4 linked regions of the Homo sapiens genome follow. The protein of the gene in region 3 interacts with the protein of the main gene of each other region in a biochemical or structural test. Each region holds a gene or a part of one and is shown on either strand. Other genes may lie near its edges. The genes, in order: PRKN, CDKN2A, USP26 and BAG3.

Region 1 (8,260 bases), on a different chromosome or scaffold from region 3:
TCAAATAGCATCCCCATCCCCTCTCTGACTGACTTTACCTGTATAACTTGCATTCTATTAAGCATAAGATGATTAAATTGGCTGCAAAAGCCAGAAGGGACTTTTAATGAATTTACACACTAAGAATTGTGACAACTATGTCTTGATCCAATATGAAAGTTTCTTAGATGTTGAATCTCCATTAAAAATTATTCCAGAGGCCAGGCGCGGTGGCTCATGCCTGTAATCTCAGCACTTTGGGAGGCCGAGACAGGTGGATCACGAGGTCAGGAGATCGAGACCATCCTGACTAACACGGTGATACCCCGTCTATACTAAAAATACAAAAAAAATTAGCTGGGCATGGTGGCAGGCGCCTGTAGTCCCAGCTACTCGGGAGGCTGAGGCAGGAGAATGGCGTGAACCTGGGAGGCGGAGCTTACAGTGAGCCGCGATCACGCCACTGCACTCCAGCCTGGGCAACACAGCAAGACTCCGTCTCAAAAAAAAAAAAATTTATTCCAGAACTGTCCCCCACAAAACAAAATAGAGTTCTAAAATGGGCAACAATGCCCAGAAATTGCCAGAACATAAAAAACAAGCACAGAGACTTGGTATAAAACTCAAGACACTGAGAATAAGATTATTTGGTGACTTCTTTGAAATCAAGATGATATAAAAGTCAATACCTATGTCAGAAGCTCTGCATGTAGTGAGACACGGCAGATGCCACACACACATACACACACACACACACGAGAAAGGGACAATGAATAATGGAGAAAACTCTAGAGAGGGACAAAAGGAAGAAATTCCAATTCCAATCATAGGTTGAGCATCTCACAGATTCCTAAATGAACAAGAGTGGAAAGCCCACAACAGATCTCTACGAAATATCACTCTCTGTATCATATGATTATGTCTAAATTGACTGCCCAATAAAACACATATACTTCCCATCTGATCCTATGAATTCAGACATATTCATGTAAAAACGTCTTTATATATTGTCACATGTAATTATACAAATTTGGTGAATATCAACTGGATCATGCAGTCTACATTTGTCTGTGGTCAGGAGCCCAGAGAAGCAGCACCTCAGAGAACATGACCTCACTTGTGCTTAAATCTGTACCTCTCACACTCTGGGAACTCACCAGAGAGCTATAAAGGACTTTCAGGAGAAAGGAGGTCGAATTTCAAGGGTGGAGAGAAGACCCAGGGCACAGGGAATATTATTCTTAAATCTGTCTAATTCTCCAAGGAGCAAACCTAACTTGCCCCCATCCTCTAGCTGCCCAGAGTTCATCATTCCTCAATTTTGTTTCAATGGAAAAAAAAAATTGTAATCAGGACTGGATTTGCCTGGAAGGAAAATGCAGAGCCAGAGACTACAAAGATTTCCATTGCAGACAATTCCCAATCTAGGGAATGTCTCCAGTAGGAGCTGTGGTGAAGCCTGGTCTGTTCCGGTCAGGCCACTCCTGTGATAACCCTCAGAAACATTACAACCCACAGTCAAGCCCTGTGGCAACAAGTAAGGAAGAAATTCACCTGTTGTTCAGACAACAGCTGCTCCTTTGAGCTGAAGAATGAAATATTAAATTCCAGCTTCTGAGAAAATCAAGGAATGTGGGTAAGAAAAAAATGAGGGGACAGAAAAGAGGGAGTGCAGGTAGATGTCAAAAAAAAAAAAAAAAAAAAAAAAACTAAAGGTTGACCTCAGAAACACAGATATTACAAATGTTCCTTCCTATTTCTCCATTTTATTAATACGAGCAAGTTTCAGGTGTCTACTTCCTATCATTTCATGATCTGGAAAATGGATCTACTCTGCGGGTACAATAAGCTTTAAAAATGACTACGCAGTTACAGAGGGCTTCATCACAAGATCTTATTTATGCACTGAAACTCCAAAAATATCTCACAATAGGAGTAACTGGCGTATTCAACAATTATGTAAATAAATAATAAAAAGTCTCAATCAGGACACCAATATTAACTCCCTAATCACCAATTTTCCCCCTCATTTGATGAGGGTAGGAGTAGAGATGTGCAAAATGGGTGAGGCTGCTAACTATTGAACATTCTCTCCTCCAAAGTTAAGGGCTCTCATGTGAAACTTTATGGGGGCCTCTGTTCAGGTCTTACAGTAAAAGTAAATTGGAGAGAATCATCAAGAAGCCATCAATACTCTTAAAAATACACACATCTGTCCATAGATGGTCTTTTTTTTTTTTTTTTTTTTTTTGAGACGGAGTCTCGCTCTGTCGCCCAGGCCGGACTGCGGACTGCAGTGGCGCAATCTCGGCTCACTGCAAGCTCCGCTTCCCGGGTTCACGCCATTCTCCTGCCTCAGCCTCCCGAGTAGCTGGGACTACAGGCGCCCGCCACCGCGCCCGGCTAATTTTTTGTATTTTTAGTAGAGACGGGGTTTCACCTTGTTAGCCAGGATGGTCTCGATCTCCTGACCTCATGATCCACCCGCCTCGGCCTCCCAAGGTGCTGGGATTACAGGCGTGAGCCACCGCGCCCGGCCCATAGATGGTCTTAATATGTGCCTAGGTATATGAGTCATGCAGATATCTAAGAGGAAGAAACTATTCTGCACTATTCTGGGTGACACGATATCCACAGCTCTGATGACATTGTTCTCTCCACACAGAGAAGAAACTATAAATAGAACCCTAAGCATCATGTTCCACATATCAAAGAAGGAGATACAAACTATTTTTGGAATACAAATAAAGCTTTAGTAACATGAAATAAAACACCTGTCAATAAGAGACATTAATCTATTCTACAAAAATAAGAACTTTTTAAAAAGAAATATGGCCTTTAATCAGAGATGATGTAATGACATATCAAATCAATGTCAACACCCTGAGAAAAGCCATCTCCTACTGCACAATTACCCTGCCATTCTCAGTCGAAGACTGTCCTCTATTAAACATTATCTGGACTTCTTTCCTTTGTTTTATGGAGTGAGTTTATAAACGCTTGTTCTCCGTAACTAGTGATTTCAAGTATTCTGTTTTATCTAAGAAGTACAATGAAGGTCATGAGAAGTCCTCTATTAACACTTTATCTGGACTTGCTGGCACTAGTGTAACTATTTTCTACAACGTTCTATTTCATAACTTTCTAGTACTGCCACAGACATCTTTCTAAAATACAACCTGTTCATAATGCTCTTTTGTAGATAATGGTTCAGTGACTCCTCCCTATCGCCAACTTTAAACCTACCTCCTTGACAAAGCTTATCTGGTGTGCCTGCAGCCTCACCAGATACCTTTCATTCTATTCTCTTCTCTCCCCTCCATGCCTGTCTAGAAGGCCGCCTTCACCTAGTTAACTCCTACTTGTCCTGCAGGAAAACTGGAATGGCTCCACTGGGAAACAGCTGGATCTTCCAAGCTCTATAGGCTGAGTTTTCCAGTACTTCCTTGTATAAACCTATATTATGATACCCACCTTTCAGGTTTGTAAATCTTTACTTTTCTGTACCCCTTCTAGACTATGAACAAGGACCTGATGAAGGGTAGTTACTAAAATGTTGGCTGACTCTAAAGGAGGTGCTAATTGCCTCACACTAAAAAGAGGGTAAGAGGTGACATGGAAAATTTCACATAAAGTTGGTGCCATTGGAACTGGATCTTGAGTGATGAACAGTAGTTTTGAGATGTTCAACAGAAAGAAAGGGCATTCAGATCAACGAGAATCAAATGAACAAAAGAAACATGAAAAATCACGTGTTGCAGGCATGTATGTGTGTGCTGATATGTACATACATCTTTCTAATTACTCTTCTTCTGTGGTGGTGAAGGTGCAATCTATACCACCAATATAAGCCTAATCAGCCCAACTAGGCCACAAACTTATTGGGAAGAAATGGTCATTTCTATGTACCTTCCCCACAGGCAATATATAGACAAATACAACCTATGTGTACCCATCCCTACCCAGCACCATCTAATACATATGGTATAAAGAAATGACACTGAAATAATAATCATAAATACCTATTCATTCAAGGAAAAAAGGTTTCTATTTGGTGAAAAACAGACATTTGAGTTAATCTGTTAAGAGTCCTAGGTAATTAGGAAATTACTGGGGGAAAAGAATCCTATTACTGTAATTCCTTTTAACCAAGATTCTATGCTACAGGATGAAGTAAATAAGCCAGGGAGGTGAGCTGCAACATAAATCAGCCGACTGTCACATGAGTCTCTTTAATATTACAAAATTGAGGGAGAGAAACCATTCAGATTACTACGAAGAAACATTTAAAATGAGCTCATTAAATGCAAATTAAAACAGAAACATTGAATAAGCACTGGGCTACAATTAAAGGCTGCAGAAACAGCAGGTAAGAAACAATTTTCATTGATCAAAGAACTAATAGCTAACAGAATAAAGTATTTTGCATTAAAACTGCTTTCATGAATATGAAGCATTTCGAAGTAAGAACTCTTTTTTTTGCATTTTTCAAAGAAACTTTGGAGGTAGGAATGGATTTACATATCTTAATACAAAGTACTTTCATTGTATCATTTTCAGGCAATGAAACTATGAGGTTTCAAAAAATGCAGACTTCAAAAACATCCTCAGAAATAGGGCCAAAATTGTAAAGGGCAAAGGGTCATTTTAGAGCCTTTGGACCCAAGGAAGAACTATTATATAATTACATAAAATCTTCTATGCAAAACTTTAGTAGAGCCTATTTTTGACACAATTTTACCTCATTATAAACAGAAGCTTTGGGGTACTTAGGCATAGAGCTGGTTTTCATCAACTTATCAAAATGGCAGGGCAAAGAGCAGTACACAGTATATTCAACTAGAAATATAAATTGAGACTTTAAAATTCACTGCACACAAGCTTGAAAACAAATATGCAGATGTGTAGCCAAATGGTGAAGTCGGAATATACATTCCTGATGGCAAGGGACTTTTTCTGTTGTGTTCCCTCGTTTCCCTGGCACCTAGAGCAGTTAAGGGTACATAGCAGGTGCTGGAATCACTGGATCTGCTTTTGCAAAACTAACGCACTATAAGATGAGAATGAGAAGTTTTCTTCTAAATTAATTTGAAAAGTTAAAAGATACTGTTTTTCATCTGTCAAGACGGCAAAAATAAAAAATCTTCGATGGCACATGGGAGGAAATGGGCACTCTTATACACACTGAAAGGGAGGGCAGGGCCACCAAGGACAGTTGTGCAGCTTGTACACTGAAAGGCACTACCCCTAGGGTGAGAGAGAGGTGGGGGACCGGAGATCCAGGAGGCGTTCTGCTAGTGAAAGCTGAGTCAGTCTCAGGAAGGACGTCTTTTGGCAATTTTCAGCCCAGAGGGGCAGGGCAGCTCTTTACTACCATGTTGTATTAGTGGAGGCTTTAGATAGGCTTGTAAAATTGGGCAACTTATTTTGGAAAAATTTTGAAATACCTAGGAAAATGTAAAATCTACAAACTCTTTAACTCAAATTGTCATACGATTTTTATTTTACATCTATGCTTACATGTGCAAGTAAAAAGATATGGCCACAAACACTTCTGACAACAGTTGTCTGTAAACCTAATGAGTGCTTATTTATTGGTAAATATTTTCATAATTAGTGTATCCTATAAAAGACTAGGCAGGAATCGCTGTGGAGTGGATCTGGACATGCAGATATGTAAATTCTCAAAGAGATGCTAAGTGAAACAAGGTATAGAAGAGACTATGTTCCAATGAATGGTTTTTGTCAATCAAAAATCTTCTTAAAAGTCTAAGACACTGAATGTGTATTTCAATACTGACAACATTGTTGTATATATAACCATGCACTCTAATATCTGCTGTTACTCAAATACCTAAATCCAGTTCTACAGAACATTTAGAACATACCACAAATATCCCCACTAACATTCCATTTTAAACACAAAGAATTGCTCATTTTTAAAAAAGTCAAAATATATTTTTAATAGAGGTACCAAAAATTACATTTTTCTAAATTGAATTCTTTTAAGCTTTTCTATTCTGCTTTATATCATCTTGAAGTCCTTCTCCACACTTTCCACAAAGGCACAATTTTTAACCGACTTCAATTAAATTATGTTTCTGTAGCTGCCTGGGTCAGGGCATTCAACACATCAATCACAATGCAGGTGGGAAATGTAAGTACTTTTGAAACAGTCCTCATGCCAATAAGGGAATCTTCGGTTTTGAGAAAGTAAAAGGAAGGTACATGTCATTAGCAGTGAGGTCACAGTCAGTCCTGTTTACTCCTATTCTACCAGGAAACCCATCTTTACGTTTCTCCTTAAACTAAGCCAGGATTTAAATAAAGTGGCAGAATATTATTCGCAGTAAGGTTGAGGCGGGAAATTAAAGAACAATAAAATTAAAAAGAAAGAGAAATAAGTTTTCCTGTTTTAGGCTAACTTGTTCCAGAAGCAGCAACAGGCACAGCCTAGACCCAGGAAAAGTCTTGATAATATTATCTAATATGCTCTGGAGACTCTCTCAGCACTCCCTCAACACAGGGAGAAGAAAAACAAATTTTCCTTTGTTTTACAGAATGAGTTTATAGACTCTTGTTCTCTGTAACTAGTGATTTCAAGTATTCTGTTTTATCTAAGTAGTACAACGAAGGTCATAAAAAGCCTGAGTAGGCCTGAACTACAGCTGCCTGGGCACCACAGAGAAGGTTATAGGATAAGCCTGTGCCCAGGCAAACCTAGAAAACGAACATCTGGGTTGCTTGGCAATGGTCATCTGCAATCCTGTCTTTGTCCTGCCTCTGTATCCCTGCTTTCACGCCACTGTAAGCTTGCTTCAAGCTAGCCCACCTCCGTTTGTGAAGTGTGTATAAAAGTCAAGTACTGTCTTTATTCTGGGCCCAGTCTTTTGGATGTGAGTCAGCTGGGCCTGAGTACACTCAATAAAGATTCTCCTGCTTCAACCTGAGGTCTCCCTCATACTCCCGAATCCCGCAACAAGGTGAGTGTAATAGTTAGAGAAAGCATAGGCCTGAAAGGAGCAAGCTTTGAGAAGCACTCTTACCTTTAACAGAAAATCCCAGATACATACTATTTACATTTTAGTGATCACTGGATAAAGTCTATAATGTCTTTCCTGGCTCTGAATTTTTGTCACAAAAACACAAAACCCATCACTCCAAGGCTTCCTTTTAATGGTTTTCACTTTCACCTACCTTTAGCACTGTTCACGACACCCAAATCCCAAACTGACCATTCAGATGTTTACTGAAATGTGGCTAATGAGGCTGGGCGTGGTGGTTCATGCCTGTAATCCCAGCACTTTCAGAGGCGAATGCGGGAGGATTGCTTGAGCCCAGGAGTTTGAGACCAGCCTGGGCAACATTATGAAACTCCATCTCTACAAAAACTATAACAAAAAATTGGCAGGCATGGTGGCACACACCTGTAGTCACAGCTACTCAGGAGGCTGAGATGGGAGGATCACTTGAGCCCAGGAGTTGGAGGCTGCAGTGAGCTGTGATGGTGCCACTGCACTCCGGCCTGGGTGACAGAGACAGAACCTGTCTCAAAAAGAGGAAAAAAAAAAAAAAAAGACGTGTGTCTAATTTCAGAATTAGGCAATGCAACTAGTTGAATATTTTATTGCACATTGTCCATGATCTTATATGTAAGGCACATTTCCTAGGGAAAGCAGGCATGGATTTAATCATTTATGTTGTACTGCACACTTATTTGCACTATGTAAAACCATGGCTGGAGTGAGAGAAATAACACTTTTAAAAACCAACCTTATATTCTCCATGTCATTACCAGTAATTGATAACTGTTTAATCATCAACTCCAAAGATATTTCTTCCTTATTGGAAGAATTCCAGATAAAACTAAACAGAACTGTCCAAACACATTTCATCCTAATAAAGTTATTTATATAATCACTTATTAGGTCATAACTTATAACTGAGTAATGTTCTTTAGATCTTAAGTGCTTGTCTTTATATAGCTTTACAATAAATTTGTTTCTCTTAAAATTATCTGTGCACTAGATTAAGTTAAATTAAAATAAAATGTATTTAACTGTCTTCAAAATAAGGTATAGGCTATTTTCTTCCTGTAGACTGACAGCACAGATATTGGAAAATCTCTTCTACTTGGTTTTCTGATTCAGTTCAAACTTGTGCTTGCAAGTGAATCTTACGTAAATGTCACCTAAAAAGAGCTCAAGAAGACTCATAAAAAATATTTTTTTCGTAATTTGATTAACTTTCAAGTCATTCACCAAAAGTCAGACCATGCTAG
Region 2 (3,973 bases), on a different chromosome or scaffold from region 3:
TCTGGCGCTCCTCGGCGGAATCCCGTAGCTTCCCTACGCATGCCTGCTTCTACAAACCCACAAATGGTTTCCGATCATTTCTGAAACAAAATGGATGCTCATTTATTCATGTGCTCTGGCTTCTGCCTTCCTCTCTAATCTCGTTGCGTATGGGCTCCAGCTCGCCGTTCGGTTCTCCCGAGGCAGCATTTACACTTGAGAGTCTCAAGATTATTTTATTCCTGAGGGAGCATTTGCACTTGAAAGTCTCTTTTTACGTTTATTCCTGAGGCAGCATTTGCACTTGAGTTTCTTTCTCCCGTAGCTTGCATTAGATTCTCCGACCACTCTTTAGCTTCTCCTCCTATTCACACTTCATATTTACCCATTGCATTGGTTTTATAAACTCGCTCTCTGAAAATAGATTGTTATCTTCCTTAACGTCTGTTTCCCAGGTCGGGCAAGATAGCTTGGGACTGTAATCCCAGTACTTTAGGAGGAGGAGGGGGGATGATCGCTTGAGCCCAGATAACATGGTGAGACCTTCGTCTCTATTAAACAAACAAACAAACCCAGGCGTCGTGGCGTGCACCTGTGGTCCCAGCTAGTCGGGAGGCTCAGGTGGGAGAACCCCTTGAGCCAGGGAGTTTGAGGCTGCAGTGAGCTGTGATCGCGCCACTGCACTCCAGGTTGGGCAACAGATCGACTCTGTCTCCAAATGTAAACCCCATGAGGGCAAGACTCTTGTTTGGTCTCATTCACCTTGGCGTGCCCACCACCTAGAACAGGGCTGATCACGCAGTAGAATCTAACCATATAATTAATTGTGCTTGAAGAGGGGGTGTTGGGGAGTAAGAGAAGGAAGGGAGGAGGGAAGAAATGAAAGACTTGTGTGTTTGGATTAAATATATTAGGTTTGGTTAAGAGTCGTTCAGTTTATTCATTTGCTTGTGGCCCAATTCAGTAGTTTTACTCCCTCTCCCACTTGGCTCCTCAGGCTTTTTGCTCAGCCCTGGAACCGCGCTGTAATTGGCAGCTCCTTCTAAATCGGGACCCGGATGCTAGCTGTAACTGGAGCCGAAGTCTCCTTCTTCACCTCCCGGGACCTGGATGCTAGCTGTAACTGGAGGGAATTGGCGGGGGGGAGGGGAGGAGGGGCCGAGTAAAGAAGAACTTCGCGTCTTTAACTTCGAAGGTGATTTTGCGTTCTGTATTTACAGCATCTCCAAGCAGAGGGCTTAGAGCTAACTCTTCACCCTGTCCTCCCCAGCTCCCCTATGGCCCAAGGAGCCCAATGCCCCCGTTCTGGGCCAAAATAAGATGGATTTCATAATCTTCAAGGTCATGTTTTACCTTAAATATTCGTGTTAATTCCCGTGTACTGTTTCATATATCTATTTTGTTTCAAAAAAAAATGTTCCTCCCCCCAGAAACAATTGAGTAATGTTGGCAGTTTCAGCAGACAGCTGTGGGAGTAGGGAACTGGGGCCATGGAATGGGGGCGGAGGGAGGATGCTTTGAGATCACAAAAAGGAAAGGCAAGGGCAAGGAGGACCATAATTCTACCTTCATCGCTCAGCGATCTCTTGCACAAGTTTAAGAGGGAAAGGAGCCAACTCCGGTGCACAGACTGCCAGGGTCAGCGAAGTCTTGGTCCTGATGTCCCCAGAACCCCCTGGGGCAGCTCTGGAAAACTCTACCGCATAAAGCGGAGGGTCAGATTAGCTGAGGAGGGTCAGATTAGTTGAGTTGTGCAGAAGAGCCGAGATCGAGAGATCTCCAGATGATGCCACGCACAATTGGGTTTGGAAATCCTGAGGTTGGTCCAGCCAGCTTGGTATGCAAATGAGGAAACAGACCTGGTAAGTGGATGCAACTGGCCCTAGTTTGGAGGAAGAGGGGGCACTAGACCTCTAGCCTCTTGAGTCTTCATTGCTCCGCAGTCTAGGCCTTGAACTAGCAGAGGGTAGGTGTTTGGGTGGTGGTATGCTTTGGGAAGTATAATGTACAAAATGGGCTTTCACGTGCGCAAGTCCATTTCGGGATTATTTCCCATTTGCCGCCCTGGCGGGGCAGGGCGATAGGGAGACTCAGGCCGTCCCACCGATTGGCGCGTGAGCTGAGGCAAGACCGGAGACTGGTCTCCCGGGCTGAACTTTCTGTGCTGGAAAATGAATGCTCTGAGCTTTGGAAGCTCTCAGGGTACAAATTCTCAGATCATCAGTCCTCACCTGAGGGACCTTCCGCGGCATCTATGCGGGCATGGTTACTGCCTCTGGTGCCCCCCGCAGCCGCGCGCAGGTACCGTGCGACATCGCGATGGCCCAGCTCCTCAGCCAGGTCCACGGGCAGACGGCCCCAGGCATCGCGCACGTCCAGCCGCGCCCCGGCCCGGTGCAGCACCACCAGCGTGTCCAGGAAGCCCTCCCGGGCAGCGTCGTGCACGGGTCGGGTGAGAGTGGCGGGGTCGGCGCAGTTGGGCTCCGCGCCGTGGAGCAGCAGCAGCTCCGCCACTCGGGCGCTGCCCATCATCATGACCTGCCAGAGAGAACAGAATGGTCAGAGCCAGGGTGGGGGCCGGCATGACGGAAAGGAAGCTTGTGTAGAGCCCCCTCACCGCCAAGCAGACCCCCACACAAGCCCCAGGTGTCTAATTACCCCTACATTTGCTTCCAGTTTCCAATTTCCTTCTTGAGTTCTCTATCCATTCTTCAGTACACAATGAATTCCATTATATCCTCCGAACTTCTGCGGAGCTGTCGTCACAGGCAGAGAGCACTGTGAGGCACGGGCAAAATAGCAAAGGGGCAGGGACAGACTGACTTTTACTCCAGGCTAACTTCCTGTATTTCCCCTGAGATACAACTACTGAAATTTCTTCCTGAAATTATGTTAGGCCTGGAGATTTTTTTTTTTTTTTTTGTTCACTGCTGTATATCCAAGCGCAGAATGTGGTAATTGTTAAAAAGAGAAAACTTGTTTGTTTGTTAAAACAAATTCTCACAAAACTTTTAAGTTACACTTAGCTTCTGGGAATGTTGAACTTCAATTTCTTTTTCATTATATTAGTTTTAAAATTATATATTGGGATAGTACAGTTGTATATATTTATGTGGTACAATATGAAGTTATGATCTTTGAACACAATGGGGAATTATTAAGTCAAGCTAAGTAACCTATCCATCATCTCAAATATTTGACATTTTTGTCAAATGAGAGCATTTGGGATTTACTATTTAGCTATATTCATCATGCTATGAAACACATCTCAAAAAAAACAATCAAACTTATTCCTCCCATCTTAACTGAGGCTTTATATCTTGATTACCATCTCCCCATTCCTCCCACCCCCCAGCTCTAGTAACCACCATTCTACTCTTTACTGCTAAGAATGTAATTGTTTTATATTTCACAGATAAGTGAGAACATGTGATATTTGTCTTTCTGTGTTTGGCTTATTTCATTTAGCATAATGCTCTCCAATTCCAAAACTTCAATTTCTTCAAGTATAAAATAAGAAGGCTAGTTTAATTAACCCTAAAATTCCTTCCTGTGGTAGGCTGAATAATGCCCCCCCACCCCCAATGTCTATGTCCTAATCCTCAAAAACTTTTAATACATTAACTTATGTGGCAAAAGAGGCTTTGCAGATGTGATTTAATTAATGGTCTTGAGGGAGATTATCCAGAATTTTCAGGGTGGGCCCAACATAACCCCAAGTGTTTTTATTAGAGGGTCACAGTCAGAGAGAAGATACAAGAATGGAAGCACAGGCCACAGAGAAAATACAGAGACCATGAGCCAAGGAATTTGATGGTCACTAGAAGCTGGAAAAGACAAGGAAACAGATTGCCCCTTAGAGTTTCCAAAAGGAATGAAACCTTGTGGACCCATTTTTGACTTCTGATCTCTAGAACTGTAAAATAATAATTTTGTGTTTGTTTTAGCTAACACATTTGTGATAATTTGTAACAGCAGCAGTAGGAAACTAAAA
Region 3 (4,006 bases):
GCGAGCAGAAGATCCAGAAGGATCTAGAAGGATCTACTTCCATTTTCTCTCCTAACCTGGCCCTAGACAACTTCTGTCCTCCTTATTCTTAAATAGAAACCTTTTTTTTTTTTTTCTGGGAAGGAACACCTTGGAAAGAGGACCTATGCCAAAATGTATAAATACCATTATATTAAACACACAACTATACTGTACAATAAAATTCAGATGAGGCAACATGACTTCCAACGGCTGTTCACTGCCAGAAAGTAAACATTTGACGTTACAGTTAATTTCCTCATTTACACACTGAAATACCTCCGTCTTTTAAAGGAAACGTATGCAAAAAACTCGAGCAGAATTGAATACATTGAACCTCAACACACAATTGTTTCAGGATATGATATCCCAAAAAACTTTCTGCAGTGGCTGGTGATTGGCACTTGTGACAATTTAGTGTCCTAAAACAAGCTCTCAGGCAAATTAGCAATGTGTGCATTTTTACATTAAAAATACCACAAACGGGCTGGGCACAGTGGCTCACGCCTGTAATCCCAGCACTTTGGAAAGCCGAGGAGGGTGGATCACCTGAGGTAAGGAGTTCAAGACCAGTCTGGCCAACTTGGTGAAACCCCGTCTCTACTAAAAATAGAAAAATTAGCTGGGCATAGGGGCGGGCACCTGTAATCCCAGCTACTTGGGAGGCTGAGGCAACAGAATCACTTGAACCTGGGAGGCAGACGTTGCAGTGAGCTGGGATCGTGCCACTGCGCTCCAGCCTGGGCGACAGAACAAGACTCTTGTCAAAAAAAAAAAAAAAAAAGAAAGAAAGAAAGAAAAGAAAAGAAAAGAAAGAAAATGCCACAAAACATTCTTTCAATTAGAAAATTCTTTTCGTTATTTGTAAATTGAAGATAATACAAAACTTTCTTCACACAAAATTTATGAAAAGGACTAGGACCCACATTTAATGGAATAAAATGCTACCTAACACAGAATTCCTCTGTAAAATAAAATTCCAAATTCCATTAAATGGCAGCCGATGATAAGACACTTAAGTGCAGTCACTGGTGCAAAACATTAAGGACACAGCCAGATGATTAAATTGTGCATTTGTAAATCAAGATTACTCCAAAACTTTTATTTTATAAGGAAATTAATGAAGAGGAAACAAGACCAGAATTTGGACAAATAAAATTATACCAAATAGGCTGTTCTGTTATAAAATGCACTCAATCGACAGTTAATTTCCTCTACTGCAAACTGAAACTTGTACAAAACCTTTCATAAGAAACCTATGAAGTTTCCAATGCCAACAATATTTTTTTAAGAGACAGGGTCTCGCTCTGTCGCCTAGGCTGCAGTACAGTGGCACAGACGCAGCTCACTTCAGCCTCGTCCTCCTGGGCTAAAGAGGTCCTCATACGTGGCCAAGACTACTCGGGGAGACTACATCTGGCTATTTATTTATTTTGAGATGTAGTCTCACTGTGTCGCCCAGGCTAGAGTGCAGTGGCACAATTTCGGCTCACTGCAACCTTCGCCTCCTGGTTTCAAGTGATTCTCTTGCCTCAGCCTCCCCAGTAGATGGGATTACAGGCACATATCACCACGCCTGGCTGATTTTCATATTTTTAGTAGAGACGGGGTTTCACCGTGTTGACCAGGCTAGTCTCGAACTCCTGACCTCAGGAGATCCACTCACTTCAGCCTCCCAAAGTGCTGGGATTACAGGCATGAGCCACGGCGCCCGGCCTAATTTTTTTTTTTTTTTTTTTTTTTTTTTTTTTGTAGAAATGAGGTCTCCCTCTGCTGTTCAGGCTGGTCTCTAACTCCTGGACTCAAGCCTCCTTCCCACCTCCCAAAGCACTGGGATTACAAACACTAGCCACCACAGCTAGAGAGGCAGAGCATCCATATTGTTTGTAAAACATCAACTGCAATTAAGACCAAACTTTTAAAGGCAAATGAATGAAAAATATGAGAAGCACTCTTCGTGGAATACAATTAAATTCACAACTATACTGTATAAAAATGCAAAATAGCGAATGACCAACAGGAGGCTATCTGAAGTTGTCAATGAACAATTCCTGCACTGACCAGACAACATTTTCAAGTTTTAAACACCAGAAAACTTTTCTTTTATTTGAAAGTGAGTGGATGAAAGAACCGACTCCAAAAGATAACCACAAATATTACATTTTTAAAAGAAAGAAATACAAACAACATCGCAGCAGCTAATGGCCATTAACTGTCCTAATACCGTGCACAATCCCTCCCAATGGGAAGCTGATTCTTTCCAGGTCCAAAGTAACAGAAAGAGAGGCCAGGCGTGGTGACTCACGCCTGTAATCCCAGCAGTGTGGGACACTGAGGCGGGTGGACCACCTGAGGTCAGGTGTTGGAGCTCAGCCTGAGAAATATGGTGAATCTCTGTCTCTACTAAAAATACAAAAACTAGCCAGGCGTCGTGGCAGGCGCCTGTAATCCCAGTTACTCAGGAGGATGAGGCAGGAGAATCGCTTAAACCCAGGAGGCGGAGGTTGCAATGGGCCGAGATCATGCCACTGCACTACAGCCTGGATGACAGAATGAGACTCCGTCTCAAAAAAAACAAAAACAGAAAAACGAAAAGAAAAGAAAAAGTATACTACTACATTTCATATAGCCACATATAGAAAGCACACTACAAATATCTAACTCTCAATAACTATTACAAATGAAAAGCAAATTGATCTTACAATAGTTTGTGGAAGAAGTCGACACCCCTGACACACCAACGCTCCACCACGTGCCCACTTAACGATCGAAAACAAAATGGGCCCCGCCACAGGGGCAGGCTTCTTTTATTGCCAGTGTATGGCTCCACCCTCAAAGATCCTGATTGGTTGTGACTGAAACAATTGACCAGGATACTGTCTACTCCCACCTTCTCTATAACAGGAAAGTCCGTCCACACCCCGGGCCTTTGCTCCTTATTGGTGGGAAGGATTATTGCTTGGAGGTGTTGCGCGTGCAGTGGCAGGAACTGTGGGGAATGGAAGGAAAAAACTATCACAAAGTAACTCCCACGAGACTTTCTGCGTGGTTCCCGCAATGAATTCAAATAACGCGCCAACCGCTTTTACATTTTTTGCATATTATTGCCTTGTACGGGAAAGATCTTCCCAGCCATTTCTACCATTGGGATGAGACTCAATTCGTAGCAGGGAATTGAAACCCACCCCTCAGCATTTACGTTTGGGAAAAAGGAACGGGCGTGATGCCAGGACGGGGATCTACAGTGAAAAATGAGCCTAAATAGCTGTACACCTAACAATTGTGCATAGGAAGTAAGGGCATTAAATTGGGGATGGTGCCGCCATTGCAGGTGAGTTAAACAGAATGGGCATTAAACTAAGTGAGCATAAGCAGTTAGGAGAGAGTTTATACGACTGGGAGAATGGATGTGGGGTGATAAGAGGACTGAGGAAGGGGATCACGAGTAGAACTAGGAAATGGCCATACTAGCGTTTGAATCCATGACCCTCTAGCACCAATGTCTGTGTCGTAGACCACTATTTAAGAGTAATCAGCCTCCTACTAGAATTTCCTTTCCCCCCATCTCTGTCCACCAATTAGGTCCCAGCTCAAACACAGCCGCCTCCATGATGCATTCACTGATCCTTTCCCTCTCTTACCAGGCCCTCTCTTGCTGCTATCAGGTGGGGAATATGGGAAAACATTAGAATTGGGGTGCAAGGGAGTGCTGTCAGCACTGGCATCAGTTAGCACCGGGCTGGATGTGGCGAGAAGGACCCAGATTTGTACTGGGATGTTTGCATTTGTTAGGTTGCAGAAATTCTGCAAAATCCAGTGCAAAAAAATAACCTAGCCCATACCTGTCTCCTGACTGGTCAGAGAATTATAAATTTAGACTACAGTTGAAAGTAAACTTGGTAGGGCTGGGCGTGGTGACTCACGCCTGTAATCCCAGCACCTTGGTAGGCCGAGCAGGTGGATCACCTGAGGCCAGGAGTCTGAGGCC
Region 4 (5,850 bases), on a different chromosome or scaffold from region 3:
TTTGTTTTCAGGCTGGGAAACAGGTGCAGTTTCTCGATGGGTCATGGGCTGCTGAAAAAAGGACACAAAAATATATTTTTAATAACTGACTGAAAGTCACAGAAATTGTTTGTAGCTAGTACAGATTAGAAAGAAAACTGAGAAATGGCTTTTTAAAAAAAGTTTAATAGTATAAAAGATTTTCAAAGTCAATCAATGGCTGTTACAAAATAAAAACATGGTATTAATCATGTATGTAACCCAATCATTAGTCAGGCTTCCATTGATCACCCCAGGCTATTTGTCTATTACCTCTCACTGAATTTCTCTGTAGATGGTATTCTTAATGGCAATGAAAAGAAACCCAATAAAATTTTCAAAAATGAAAATAGCTAACCTGGGCAATATAGTAAGACCCCAACCCTACAAAAAATCTTTAAAAATTAGCCAGGTGTGGGAGCTTGCACTCGTAGTCCCAGCTACTCAGAAGGCTGAGGCGGAAGAATCGCTTGAGCCCAGGAATTCAAGGCTGTAGTGAGCCACGATTATGTCATTGCACTCCAGCCTGAGTGACAGAGCGAGATCCTGTCTCAAAGAAGGAAGGGAGGGAGGGAGGAAGGAAGGAAGGAAGGGGGGAAGGAAGGAAGGAAGGAAGGGGAGAAGGGGGCAAGGGGGAAGGGGGCAGGAAGGAAGGAGGGAAGGGGGAAGGGGGAAGGAAGCAGGGAAGGGGGGAAGGGGAAGGGGGGAAGGGAGGGGGAGGGAAGGAGGGAAGGAAGGAAGGAAAGAAGGAAAAAAATAGCAAAAACTCATGCTGACTGCTGAACTAGGCTGACTCAGAGCAGAGTCCTGAGTGACTCCAGCTCTCAGGTGTTGCAGCCTTGGAGTCGCTGCCTCTGGTCCTTCTTCCTTACACTGTGCAGACAGTCTGCTCACGGTGTGATCTTCTTGTCTCCTGTTTTAGAAAAGATACGATCTTCTTTTTTTAAAACCGTGACAGCCTAGTAGTTTCTGCCCAGACCAATGTATTTTTTTAGGATTAGCCAAGATGCTCTAAATGGTTAACTCCAGAACAATTTTGCTTCAGGATAGCTGTGCTGTAGCCTAACATTCAGCAATGACACAGCGCCTCTGTGCTAACCTCTGGCTGCACAGGTTTTCCTGTGACTATAAACTACAGCCATATAGATATATAGATTTTTGTGGGGGACAGGGTCTCACTCTGTTGCCCAGGCTGGAGTGCAGCGGGGCTATCACAGCTCAATGCAGCCTCAACCTTCTGGCCTCAAGTGATCCTCTCACCTTAGCTTCATGATTAGTTGCAACTACAGGCACATACCATCATGCCTGGCTAATTTTTCTATTTTTTTGTAGAGACAGGGTTTCACCATGCTGCCCAGGCTGGTCTTGAATTTCTAAGCTCAAGCAATCTGCCCACCTCGGCCTCCCAAAGTGCTAGGATTATAGGTGTGAGCCACCACGCCTAGTAAGCCATATATTTTTTAATGAGCTATGCTCAAAGCAAAAATATCTTGACGCTTTTTGTTTTTGTTTTTGTTTTTGAGACGGAGCCTCGCTCTGTCACCCAGGCTGGAGTGTGCAGTGGTGTGATCTCAGTTCACTGCAACCTCTGCCTCCCAAGTTCAAGCAATCCTCCCACCCCAGCCTCCCGAGTAGCTGGGATTACAGGCGCCCACCAACATGCCTGGTTAACTTTTTTTTTTGTATTTTTAGTAGAGATGGGGTTTCACCATGTTGGCCAGGCTAGTCTTGAACTCCTGACCTTAAGTGATACCCCCGCCTCGGCCTCCCAAAGTGCTAGGATTACAGGATTACAGGCGTGAGCCACTGCGCTTGGCCTTATCTTGGCTCTTATTCATGTAAGTGAATATCTAACACTTCTTTTAAAATCTCACCCTAATTTCATCAACTGGGAAATAACTGGACTATATTATTTCTAAACTATTCCCAGCTTAAAACACTCAATTCCACTATAACGTTCAGTTTGGTGAAATCCTGGAAAGCCTCCCAAAAGGGAACTTTGAATCAGCTCTAAAAGGGAGGTCACCACAAACACGGTTAATGGTAAGAACAGGATGAAATATCATTTCACTGATGATGAGAAACACATGGGAATGATGTGGAGAAAATATCCCTCTCTCTACAAATGGGACCCTCCTAGGATTGCTGAACCCAAGTATGGATCGATGTAGCTGTCTACACTCCAGCAACCTCCTTTTCCATCAAATCTCTTTCGCCAATGCAGACATTCGCAACTTTGGCCCTTACCACTCACAACCCAACCACGCACCCCTCCTAGGTTCTAACAGCAATGGCTGTGTAAGAAGTGACTTTAGAAACACTTTAGAGAGGGTGTTCCACAGCCTGTGTTCTTCAAAACCGTCAAGGCCGTGAAAGCAAAGAAAGGCTGAGGGAAGACTGAAGAGAAGTTGCATCTAAATGCGGTGCTCATGATCCTTGTTTCAGTCCTGGAAGACATCCTGGAAGTGGGGGCAAACTGCTATAAAAAAGATTCAAAAATGTACTGGATAATAATGTTGTAAGAATGTGAAATTTCCTGAATCTGGTAAGTCTACCATGGTTATGAACGAGAATGTCTTCCTCTTAGGAAAATATTTGCTATTCAGGGGAAAAGGGACATGATGTCTGCAATTAATTTTCAAACAGTTAAAACACATCAATAATATACGAGAGAAGAAATGACAAGGCGAATGCAGACATATTGACAAACAGTGAACTGGATGAAGTATATGTGGGGCTCTGTATGATTCACACAACTCTTCTATGAGATTGAAATTATTTCCAAATAAAACAACATTTTAAGATGAGGGTGCTCTATTCCAGGGCCCTGGCCAGTGTGACCATTTGTAATGAAAGAATATCCCACATTTGTTCACGGGGGGCTTTCCTTTTTAAAAACTGTAGCATTCAGCTGCTCAAGTTGCAGCCACAGGGGGCCCAGGGCTGCTGACTGTCCTGCTGCTAAGCTGTGAGCTGCTTAAACTAAATGACATCCTCTTCCAGGAACCTGCACCTTGTGTCTCCACTGGAAGATAACCAGACCCCTGCCTACAACCTTCCCCAGGCCAGCACGGCTTCCAATCCGCCATAGCTGGCTGATGCCTCAGCCAGACCACATGGTACCTGATTACAAAGGGAGGAGGGGGGTTAAGACATGGGCCCTGTGGTCAGGCTCAGCCCTAAGCTGAAGAGATAAAATGAACACTTCTGAAATGCCCCGAATAATGACATGTTGAACTCATACAAGTTGGGAGTTCTCATTAAGGGACTCATATGAGGCATCATGAGATGAGAAGGATGAGTAGGCTTCATGGAGGAGACAAGACTGGCTCGTCCCTCAGAGGACAGGGAGAACCTATACTGTGCGGGCATTTCAGGGAGCGGGTTCAGCATGGGCAAAGGCACAGGGGTGGGAATGAGCAGAATGGGCCTGCAGAGTGGAGTGGGTAACTGAGTGGAAGGTGACACACTGCCTACACCCAAGGTGAGGCTGTGGCTGCGGTGTGGATGGGGGTGTGAAGAGCCCTGAAAGGGTGTGGTGGACACTAAGGAAGCTGGTCCCAGGTATGTAAGTTCTGCCAAGCTGTTTCGTCTGCTCTAAGTCAGCCGCAATGCACAATGATCAGCCCAGCAAAAGCTGCAGAGTGCGGAGGGTTCACAGCCTGAGCAACTGTCCTGCATTTCTGTTAATACCTAGCAATTTCTCGAATCTCACTTGCCTGTAGGTACACGCATGTTAAATAGGCAGGGATGAAGGGGGAACCCAGGGCACCCACAGAGCTCCTGCACCCCTGGAGACATACCACCATAACCAGTCTGCTGACGACTAACTTCCCGTACCTGAGGCCTGTCGACCACGGTGTGCACACGGATGGGCGAGGGGGAGTGGAGTGGCGTGCTGCTCCTGGCTGGTGAGCCCTCCCGGCTCGATGCACCCTGGACAGATGACCTGAACGGGGATGCCGCCCGCAGGGGCCGGGGCTCCCAGTCATCCCCCTGGATCTTGTGGTACACAGGCTGGTGGGTCTGGTACTCCCCCTGCTGCGCTGGGTAGTGCGTCTTCTGGGCTTGGTGGAAGGAGGGCTGGGCTGCTGGCCGGGTAACGTTCTGCTCGTGTATCACCGGAATGGAGATGTACCCCCGCGGGAGCTGGTGACTGCCCAGGCTGCTCCTGCCGGAGGAAGGCAGGCTGGCCGAGGAGGATGAGGATGAGCAGTCAGAGGCAGCTGGAGACTGGGACCGCTGCAAGAGACACAGGGTAGAGGGCATGACCCCACAAATGACTCCCCTGGCTTGGCATCCTGACCACGCCTTCTGCTGTGCACCTCCTCAGGGCAATCCATATTGTAAGACCTCCTATCTGTAATTTTCAATTTTCAAAATGTGCGGTTAAGACTGAGAGCTCTGGGGCTGGGCGCGGTGGCTCACACCTGTAATCCCAGCACTTTGGGAGGCCTAGGTGAGTGGACCACCTGAGGTCAGGAGTTCAAGAGCAGCCTGGCCAACATGGTGAAACCCCATCTCTACCAAAAATACAAAAATTAGCTGGGTGTGGCGGCGCATGCCTGTAGTGCCAGCTACTCAGGAGGCTGAGGCAGGGGAATTGCTTGAACCTAGGAGGCAGAGGTTGCAGTGATTTGAGATCACACCACTGCACTCCAGTCTGGGCAACAGAGAGAGACTCCACCTCAAACAAAGCAAAACAAAACAAAACAAAACAAAACACACACACACACAACAAAGACTGAAGGCTTTGGAATCAAGGGGCCTATGTTCAAATTCCTAGTAATTCAATCATTTTCTAAGCTTCATTTGAAATATAGGAAGAGTGCCCCTCCCTCACTGGGCTGCTCTGAAGATGAGGTCAGTCACCTGGGCATGTGCCTCAGCCCCAGGCCAGCACACAGGAAGCGCTCATACAAGGGATGTGTTGTCCCCACTACCCTTTCTCTGCCAATCTACAGAGAACTCGGCTGAGCAACTGGGAGCTGCCAGCATCCCGTGTGGCCCAAGGCAGGTCAAGCACCTTTCCCTGCTGGGCCACCTTCTATTCACCTCGAAATTGAGAGCATTTCCTCTTCTAAGTGCTTTGTTAGCCTAAATTTGTGAAGATGTCTCGCATTTATGTGTCACTTTGATTTCTTGCAGCAAAACCATTATAAATATAGGCATTACTTATTTTTTTATTTTTGAGACAGTCTCGCTCTATCACCTAGGCTGGAGTGCAGTGGTGCGATCTCGGCTCACTGCAACCTCTGCCTCCTGGGTTTAAGCAATTCTCCTGCCTCAGCCTCCTGAGTAGCTGGGATTACAGGAATGTGCCACCATGCCCGGCTAATTTTTGTATTTTTTGTAGAGACGGGGTTTCACCGTGTTAGCCAGGCTGGTCTTGAATTCCTGGCCTCAAGTGATCCACCTGCCTCAGCCAGGTACTACCTCTCTAAGAAAAGAAAAAAGGTATCCCACATTAACTGTAACTTTCACTCTCAAGCAGGTGTGAAGCTGAACAGATTCAGACGGAGCTGAGAGGCAAGCATGACTCAGGGTGCAGATAGGACACGGGAGTTTGTGCCCAGGAACAACGCTGGCACACACCACAGGATGATGTGCAGACAGGAAAATGAGAGGACTTACTGCTTAGGAATCCTACTAGGAATGCCTCAAATCTCAGCTAAGAACCAGATTAAGAACTATTTTTTAGCTATTAATGCACAGAATCCATTGACATATCCCTGAGATGTTTGGCTTCAGGATTAAAATGCTGTCTTAAAGCAGCTGCCTTCCTGACTCCTTATTTCTTTTGAAACTGTGGTGCACGGTGAGGGCAGGCAT

The links.
Region 1: the proteins of USP26 (region 3) and PRKN form a complex in vitro, tested with the Homo sapiens proteins (one study listed by BioGRID).
Region 2: the proteins of USP26 (region 3) and CDKN2A form a complex in vitro, tested with the Homo sapiens proteins (one study listed by BioGRID).
Region 4: the proteins of USP26 (region 3) and BAG3 form a complex in vitro, tested with the Homo sapiens proteins (one study listed by BioGRID).

The regions. Positions count from the first base shown.
Region 1 is NC_000006.12:162,718,232-162,726,491, forward strand, and holds part of PRKN (E3 ubiquitin-protein ligase parkin), read right to left. Parts: intron 1-8,260. UniProt on the Homo sapiens protein: Functions within a multiprotein E3 ubiquitin ligase complex, catalyzing the covalent attachment of ubiquitin moieties onto substrate proteins. Substrates include SYT11 and VDAC1.
Region 2 is NC_000009.12:21,968,692-21,972,664, forward strand, and holds part of CDKN2A (cyclin-dependent kinase inhibitor 2A), read right to left. Parts: intron 2,974-3,973; exon of another isoform or gene 2,638-2,973; intron 2,518-2,637; coding exon 2,211-2,517; intron 1,813-2,210; coding exon of another isoform or gene 1,715-1,812; exon of another isoform or gene 1,114-1,714; intron 1,103-1,113; coding exon of another isoform or gene 1,041-1,102; exon of another isoform or gene 890-1,040; intron 81-889; coding exon of another isoform or gene 34-80; exon of another isoform or gene 1-33. UniProt on the Homo sapiens protein: Acts as a negative regulator of the proliferation of normal cells by interacting strongly with CDK4 and CDK6. This inhibits their ability to interact with cyclins D and to phosphorylate the retinoblastoma protein.
Region 3 is NC_000023.11:133,094,310-133,098,315, forward strand, and holds the start of USP26 (ubiquitin carboxyl-terminal hydrolase 26), read right to left. Parts: upstream 2,801-4,006; 5' UTR 2,721-2,800; intron 1-2,720. UniProt on the Homo sapiens protein: Deubiquitinase regulating several biological processes through the deubiquitination of components of these processes.
Region 4 is NC_000010.11:119,670,665-119,676,514, reverse strand, and holds part of BAG3 (BAG family molecular chaperone regulator 3), read right to left. Parts: intron 4,261-5,850; coding exon 3,859-4,260; intron 52-3,858; coding exon 1-51. UniProt on the Homo sapiens protein: Co-chaperone and adapter protein that connects different classes of molecular chaperones including heat shock proteins 70 (HSP70s), e.g. HSPA1A/HSP70 or HSPA8/HSC70, and small heat shock proteins (sHSPs), e.g. HSPB8.